Linked DNA regions of Homo sapiens. The protein of the gene in region 2 purifies or fractionates together with the protein of the main gene of each other region. This does not show direct contact. Each region holds a gene or a part of one and is shown on either strand. Other genes may lie near its edges. The genes, in order: NUP205 and RAPGEF3.

Region 1 (3,822 bases), on a different chromosome or scaffold from region 2:
TCTGGCTGCTGTGTAGAGAAAAGAGAGAAAAATTTCTATACTATAAGCAGTTTGTTTTAATTATAATGGAGGAGCCATTTGAAGAAAATATGGGCATGTTAGTTGAACAAAAGTTTAATATGTCTAAAGATAATATATGGCTACCAAAATCCTTTTTGACCTAAGCCTGCACTAAAAGAAGTATGATATTGAGAATGAGGGGGATGTTCACTAGACATGCTTGAGTTTTGAGTTTAACTCGGAACTTTCATTTAACAAACATTTCTTCTATACCTACCATGTGCCAGGCATGGTGTTAATTATATCACTCCAGTGATATAAAGATGAATAAAATCTCAACTAGTGTAAATACGCTCATATTCTAATAATTGAGAATGATGTGGAAACAAATATTTTGACACAATTAAGTACAATTAATGCAGTTTTGTGCAAGATTTAGAGATGGTCCAGAGATTTAGAGATGGTATTAGATGGACCTTGATTGTACAGAGAACTCTTAACAACATCATGAAGTTTAAGGTAGATGTTGCAAAATGAGTAAGCATACATCAGGTGGAATAGGTGGTTATTTGGGAGGATGAAGGGCATCCAGGCAGAAGAAATTGCCTGTGCAAGAGGGTGAAGCAAGGTGATGAATTTGGGGAACAGAAAGGAGTAGAGTGGAGGAGTAGTTGCAGTAAGGGGAAAAGAAAGCTTTAGGAAATGAAACTGAAACTATAGGCAAAGTACTCTTAAAAAAAAAGTGAAACTTAGCCAGGCGTGGTGGCTCACACCTGTAATCCCACCACTTTGGGAGGCCAAGGCAGGTGGATCACGAGGTCAGGAGTTCAAGACCAGCGTGGTCAACATGGTGAAATGCCATCGCTACTAAAAATACAAAAATTAGCTGGGTGCTATGGCAAGTGCCTGTAATCCTAACTACTCAGGAGGCTAAGGCAGGAGAATTGCTTGAACCTAGGCGGCAGAGGTTGCAGTGAGATCACGCCACTGCACTCCAGCCTAGGTGACAGAGTGAGACTCCATCTCAAAAAAAAAGGTAGAACTCATTCAAAGGAGAGTAGTTAAAAGGTGACTGAACTTGAATTATAAAAAGGTTGTTTATTCAGAGAAGATTCCGAGGGAAGAAACTTAGAAATATTTGAAAGATTCCATATGAGATAGTAAAATGGGCATTGAATAAAATTAAATTTAGTGGACAACAGTGAGACCAAAAGATTCTCACCCAGTATGTAGAAATCACAGGTAAGTGTGAGAGTTAGAAATTGAGAGTTTGGAAAATGGTGAATTCCATGTCCCTGCTGGTGTTTAGGGATAAGTTGGATGGCCCTCGAATATGTTGAGCAAGAAGTTAGACAGTGGATGGATGTTTGTAGTAGAGGACCCCAGGGCCCCTTAAGCCCTGAGCTACTGTGATTCTTTGAACTGAACATTGTTATATTGATTTTTGTCTCCTCCTAAACACATACGTGTTTATTAACAATATTATTTCTCAACTTCCTTTTTTAGGAGAGCATCAACAGCCACATTTTCCTGGCCTTACCAGAGGATTAGTAGCTGTTCTTCTGTACTGGGATGGAAAGCGATGCATTGCGAATTCCTTGAAAGCCTTGATACAGTCTAGACGGGGAAAGACATGGACCCTAGAACTCAGGTCTTTTTACTTCTTGGGATTTCAGGGGTTAATTTGAAATTACTTGAAGTATGACAATATTTCCCTTATTATATACAATCTGAGCAATATGTAACATAAGCTGAGTAATATACTCCCTTATTCTGCCAAGACAGATATAACAATTTAAACCTGTTTTATTGTGTTTATAAATAAAAAATAATTTGGACCGAGGTGCAGTGGCCCAAATTATTTTTGGATTACAAAGTGCTGGGATTACAGATTACAGTCTTGAGCTCAGGAGTTTTAGATCAGCCTGGGCAACATGATGAAATCCCATCTCTACAAAAAATAGAATAATTAACTGGGCATGATGGCATGCACCTGCAGTCCCAGCTACCTGGGAGGCTGAGGTGGGAGAAAGACCTGAGCCTGGGACGTCAAGGCTGCAGTGAGCCATGATCACGCCACTGCACTCCAGCCTGGGTGACAGAGCAAGGCCCTGTCTCAAAAAAAGAGCGTTTGCTATACCTATTATTATGAAGAAGCATAAACAATATTGTTTAACGTAGTTTATTGATTTCTTTTCATTACAGTCCAGAGCTGGCTTCCATGACAACACGCTTTACAGATGAGCTGATGGAGCAAGGATTGACTTATAAAGTTCTTACGCTGGTGTCACAGATTGATGTGAATAATGAGTTTGAGAAACTACAGCGAGAGAGAGGTTTGGGCAGTGAAAAACATCGCAAAGAGGCAAGGGTTCAATGAAATCAATTCATGAGTTGTCTGTCAAATCTCAGAGGCAGAAACATGACAATTAGAATGTTCATTTTTTCAAGATGAATTATGTAGCTGATACCATGCCTGATTGCCACTTTTCTTTTTTTTTGCTTTTATTATTTTTCATTGACACAAAACTGTACATATGTATAGGGTACAGTGTGGTATTTTGATACATATGTATGATATGTAATAAATCATAATTAGCATATCCATCACCTCAAACGTTTATTATTTCTTTGTGTTGGGAACATTCAAAATTCACTGTACTACTGTTTGACAGTACAGTATACAATAAATTGTTAATTGTAGTCAGCTCGTAATGTATATTAAAGTTTGTAGTCAGCTGTGTCCATAAAATTGACTTGCAGTTGTTTCAGCTTCGGTATAGTCATTTATGTGCCATTCTAGCTCTTTTTATGAAATGAACAAGAAATTGGTCATCCCAATTTCTTAAGGAACTTAAGGATAAGGAATAAACAATAGGGTTTGTTCAGAATTCCAGAGGTGACGTCTTAGGATCACTTGTGGATTTTGATAGGTTTTTTTATTAGCCTTTGTAAAAGGTAGTTTGTACTTTGGAATAAGACCAGGCTTCACTGTAATTTATTTATACTGATAGTCATGTTTTTATTTCTAGGTTTCTGATCTCATTAAGGAGTGCAGGCAGTCTCTTGCAGAAAGCCTTTTTGCCTGGGCTTGCCAGTCACCTTTAGGCAAAGAAGACACTCTCCTCCTCATTGGACATTTGGAAAGAGTGACAGTTGAGGCTAATGGCTCACTGGATGCAGTGAATCTGGCTCTTCTTATGGCGCTTCTATACTGTTTTGATATCAGTTTTATAGAGCAAAGCACAGAGGAACGAGATGGTATTGAGTTTTATACATTTTCCTACATTAAAAAAATCAGATTTAAAATTGTGGGGATAACATTTAAAAAGGGTGATATTTTAGCTACTAAAATAGTCTGCTCTGTTCCTGTGTTTGCAGTCCGTTCATATTTGAATATTTATATATAAGATCACATTTAAAAAACAGCTGCAGTCCTGTTAATTATTTCTGTTTTTTGGGGGGATTTGGAATGGAAAGTATTAAAGCATATATTATACATGTTCATGATTGCACATGCCTAATTTACTTAATTGCTTGTTTCTTTACCATTCATTTACATTTTCAAACTTTTTATTAAAACATTCTGAGACAGTGACTGTCATTTCAGTAATGTAATCTTTGATCTGTGTTTTCTGTGAAGTAAATAAAATTTTTGTGATCTTTAGATAGCATGATTTCTATTTTAGAATTTATGTGCAGAAAAAATGAGTGTCTAACTTTTTTCTTGTTTATTTGTAGTACACTTATAAAAATGACTGAAAATAGTGAAATTGAAATTTAGGATTATTGTCATTTTCTTTTTTTGTTTTTAGTATGTGT
Region 2 (3,822 bases):
CTTGATGATGCCTTTAGCCCAGGGAAGGCTTCCGTGAGGGAATGAGTGCCAGCTGTGAGCATGCACGCCCATGGTGAAGGGGTGGAGCCCGAGTCCCAGGAAGACAGCACTGCCAGTTATTGAGGCCAGACCTCCCTCTTCGAAAGCCAAGGGGAAAACCCATCAACCTCCCAGAGAAGAAGTCTGAAGACAGCTCTTTCTGTTCCTACCTAGACCAGGACAAGAGAAAATGAAAGCGGGTTACAGTAGGAGGGCTTGCAGTTAGATACAGACTAAGATAAGACTTAACAGCTATTGCAAAAGTGACACTGGAATGGGATGGAAGAACATCTTTGGAAAATAAGAGGGGGAGGTGAGATCTTGTCTGATGTCCGGGGGCAGGGGCAAGATCAGAGTGACCTGTGGTGGGTTCTACTAGCTCAGGGAAGTCTGAGATGATTCTCTTTGTGTGACTGTTCTTGGGGAAGTGGCCCTGTTTTGTAACTCCGAGAACGCACTTTCATTCAACCTATCCAAATAATAGTAGTAGTTAATAGTTATACAGTACTTATGTGCCAGACATTATTGAAAGAGGTTTGCCTTTATCATATCAAATAATTCTCACAACAGCCCTGTGAGATAGGTACTAATGTCATCATCTCCATTTTATAGATGTGAAAACAAAGCCACAGAGAGGTTAAGTGACAGATTCAGAGTTACGCAGCTGCTAAGTGGCAAAGCTGGGCTTTGGTCCCAGGCAATCTGGCTGCAGAGTCCAAGCTCATAACCACATAACCACCATGCTGCACTTCTCTCTTGCTACGAACAGTAACACTGACACCTTAAGGCATCATCCCGGCCCCATGCACCCTTCCCCTGTCCCACCACAAGCAGCCCTAGCTTGACACCTTAGCTATGGCCCAAGGGAACTGGTCTGACAGGTCCCCAGGCTGTCTGGCTCTGTGCCTGTCTCTCCAGCCCAGCTCTGACATTCAGTGACAGGGAGTGAGGGTGGGGCAGGCCACAGTGCTGGTGCCAGGGGAGTTAGTGCCTCCTCTTCCGCCCTGAACCCTTTCTGTTCAGGAATGAGAGTGGGGAGTGGGTGAGGAGGACCTTCACCTTGACTCATATCAGCTGCTTCTTCCCAACTGAGAACCCTGAAACTGACATGACTAGCATTGTATTTTTTTGCACTGTGTCCTGGTAATAGGGCCCATCATGAAATAATAACATCTGATCAAGTCAACTAAACTTACTAAGTAGTTACTATGATCCAGGCACCATTCCAAGTACTTTATATTATTAACTTTTTGATCCTCATAACCCTTTGTGATAGGTACTATTCATATCATCAACCCCAGTTTACAGATGAGGAAACCGAAGCACTGCAAACTTCAGTAATCAGCACGAGCTCACACAACCAGATGGTAACGCAAAAGCTAGGATTTGAACCCAAGCATCTGGCTGCAGAGCCTACACACTTGACCACTGCCCTTGAATAGCAGCCCTCTCTCCGCCCCATCCTAGAAGGTTGGCAGGCACACAAACATCCTGGGGGCACAGAGAGGGTAGAATAACAAACCTGTCTATCTTTGTCTAACCCAGTGGTTTCCAAACTTACTTGCCCACAGAACTTGCCTGAAGGCAGAATACCTCTACTGTCTGTGCCTATAGCACAAAGCTGAGGAAACATGGGAATAGGCATAATGGAAGACGGTAGGGCATAATGCTAAGAGCATGGCCTTTGGAATCAGACATAGGTATGAATCCTGGTGCCCTTATTGACCAACAGTTAGGGCAGGTTATAGAACCTTGGAGCTTTCTTTTCTCTAGCTGTGAAATAGGAAACAAATACCTACCTCTGGGGTCAGCACCAGTAGCAGAGTTATTCAGTAGAATCTTACCTTTCTAAATAGTTGTGTGATCTCTCTGGGCTTTTGCTTTCCTTGTCAAAATGAGAGGGATTCCTTAAAGTCCCTTCCTCAGTGCTCATGGACTAGGGCCATTCTCTGACCTGCATCCTCATCCCCTGGGGGAGGACAGGAAATGACCAACCTGGCCACGTGACCCAGCACCACCCCTCCTAATGTGCCCTCTCCCAAGTCAGAATAATACCAGGAAGGGGGCTGGTGCTGGAGCCTGGGTTGTGGGCTCCAATGGGAGTTGGGGCAGGGACTGGGGCCACCTGGGCATTTTGATATGAACAACAAGTCATTAGCACTCAGGCACTGTTTGTTCCGACACAGGGGGCTGGCTGGGTAGCATTCCTGCCCTTCCTCCCTTCCCTGGCTCCTCCTCCTTCTCATTTCCTGTCGTTAAGTCTCCAGGGCTCTGTGTCTGGCACTGGGCTGGGCCCCATGACCCGGGCAGGGATACCCTTGGGACACCTAGTGACTTCCGCCCAGCCCTGGGCCAGGCGCCTGCACATGCCAGACCTCAGGCCTCTGCTTGGGCACGCAGTGCCAAGATGCCTGTGCCCAGGGCCCTGCCAGCACCAGGACTGGTTGTACTGCAACTCCCCAGCAGGTCCTTTTCAGGGACCTGAAGCCAGATGGGAAGCTAGGAGAGAGGTGGCTGGTGAGGGGAGAGGAAAGGGGCAGGTGGGGTGGGTGTAGGGAGACTGAGAATGGGAGCACTTCTGGGTGGGAACTTGAACTTCTCCACAGCTGTCTGGCTGTCCGAAGTATGCGCAACTGAGTTACACAAGGTACCTCACCTCCAGGCTTTTATTTCCTTGTAAGTGACAGAGGACAGACAATGCCTGCTCTGCCTATTTCACATCTGATCCTATTTTACATGAGATCCAATGAAATCAAGGGGGCGATTGTGCTTTGTAAACTGTAAAGTGCTTTGTAAACTGTAAAGTGAGCCCTTTGAGAGGGCTCGTAGATGGTAGAGCATCCTGTCCAGAGATGTCCACAAACCCCAGATTCTCAGGTGGTAGGAAGAGAAGGGTCGTGAGGGGCTTTCATGGCCATTATTCCAGGGCGTACAGGCCCGGGAGTTCCAAATGGCTTGTTACCAAGGGCAGGGAATCCTTACTAAGCAGTGTTTCCATGATAAAGTGCGTCTTCCTGAGCCAGTCCTGTGTGCCACCAAGGACTTATTCACTCTCGCAGGGCACAGGCTAGCAACATCTCAGAGAAGAAAGACGCTTTCCAGCAAGCAGCCCCACCCTAATGCCTCACAGATGAGTACTAGCTAACATGTGCATACAACTATATGCCAGGCAATGCTTTAAACATTCGATGTGTAGCAACTCATTTAATTCTCCCAAAACCTCATGAGTCGGTATTATTAGTGCTTTGTAGATTTTACAGTTCAGGAGACTCAGGTAGGGAGGGAGAGGTTAAATCATTTGTTTCAGGTCACATCTGCCATCAGTGGGGAAGCAGAGATTTTAATCCAGGAGCCTGGCTCCAGGGTTTGTGTTTTGACAACCAGGCTGATCCGAGGCCCAGAGATGGCAAGACACCTGCTCATGGGCCTGTGGAAGGACACAGAACCTGGCTGGGGATCAGGTCTGTGACCCCAGCCCAGGAGCGGATGTTCCCAGGCCTCCTGAGCTGCTCACATCCTGGCTCCCATCTCCCAGGTCTTCTTATCTCATGTCCTCATGCTCCTTCCAGCTCCCTCACTTCTTTCCCCCAACAGGGGCAGTTCACCTGGGGGCATGGGCACACCTGGGCCCTGAGTAAGCAGAATGGGTGTCTTAGGGCTCTCAACTGTAGGGAGGCAGTCCTTGAGTTGGGTTTGGTGATCAGGATGGCAGGGTGGGAAGAGGCGATGCCCGGGGCACAGGGTGCTGAGTGAATATTTGTTTATTTGCTGAAGGAGTGGCCA

Evidence for each region.
Region 1: the proteins of RAPGEF3 (region 2) and NUP205 purify together in Homo sapiens (affinity purification with mass spectrometry, with the first as the bait; one study listed by BioGRID). This does not show direct contact.

What each region holds. Positions count from the first base shown.
Region 1 is NC_000007.14:135,574,764-135,578,585, forward strand, and holds part of NUP205 (nuclear pore complex protein Nup205), read left to right. Parts: intron 1-1,506; coding exon 1,507-1,651; intron 1,652-2,205; coding exon 2,206-2,365; intron 2,366-3,032; coding exon 3,033-3,261; intron 3,262-3,822. UniProt on the Homo sapiens protein: Plays a role in the nuclear pore complex (NPC) assembly and/or maintenance. May anchor NUP62 and other nucleoporins, but not NUP153 and TPR, to the NPC.
Region 2 is NC_000012.12:47,752,089-47,755,910, reverse strand, and holds part of RAPGEF3 (rap guanine nucleotide exchange factor 3), read left to right. Parts: coding exon of another isoform or gene 1-62; exon of another isoform or gene 63-209; intron 210-1,883; exon of another isoform or gene 1,884-1,977; intron 1,978-3,822. Other genes in the region: SLC48A1 (heme transporter HRG1), read right to left, coding at 1-62. UniProt on the Homo sapiens protein: Guanine nucleotide exchange factor (GEF) for RAP1A and RAP2A small GTPases that is activated by binding cAMP.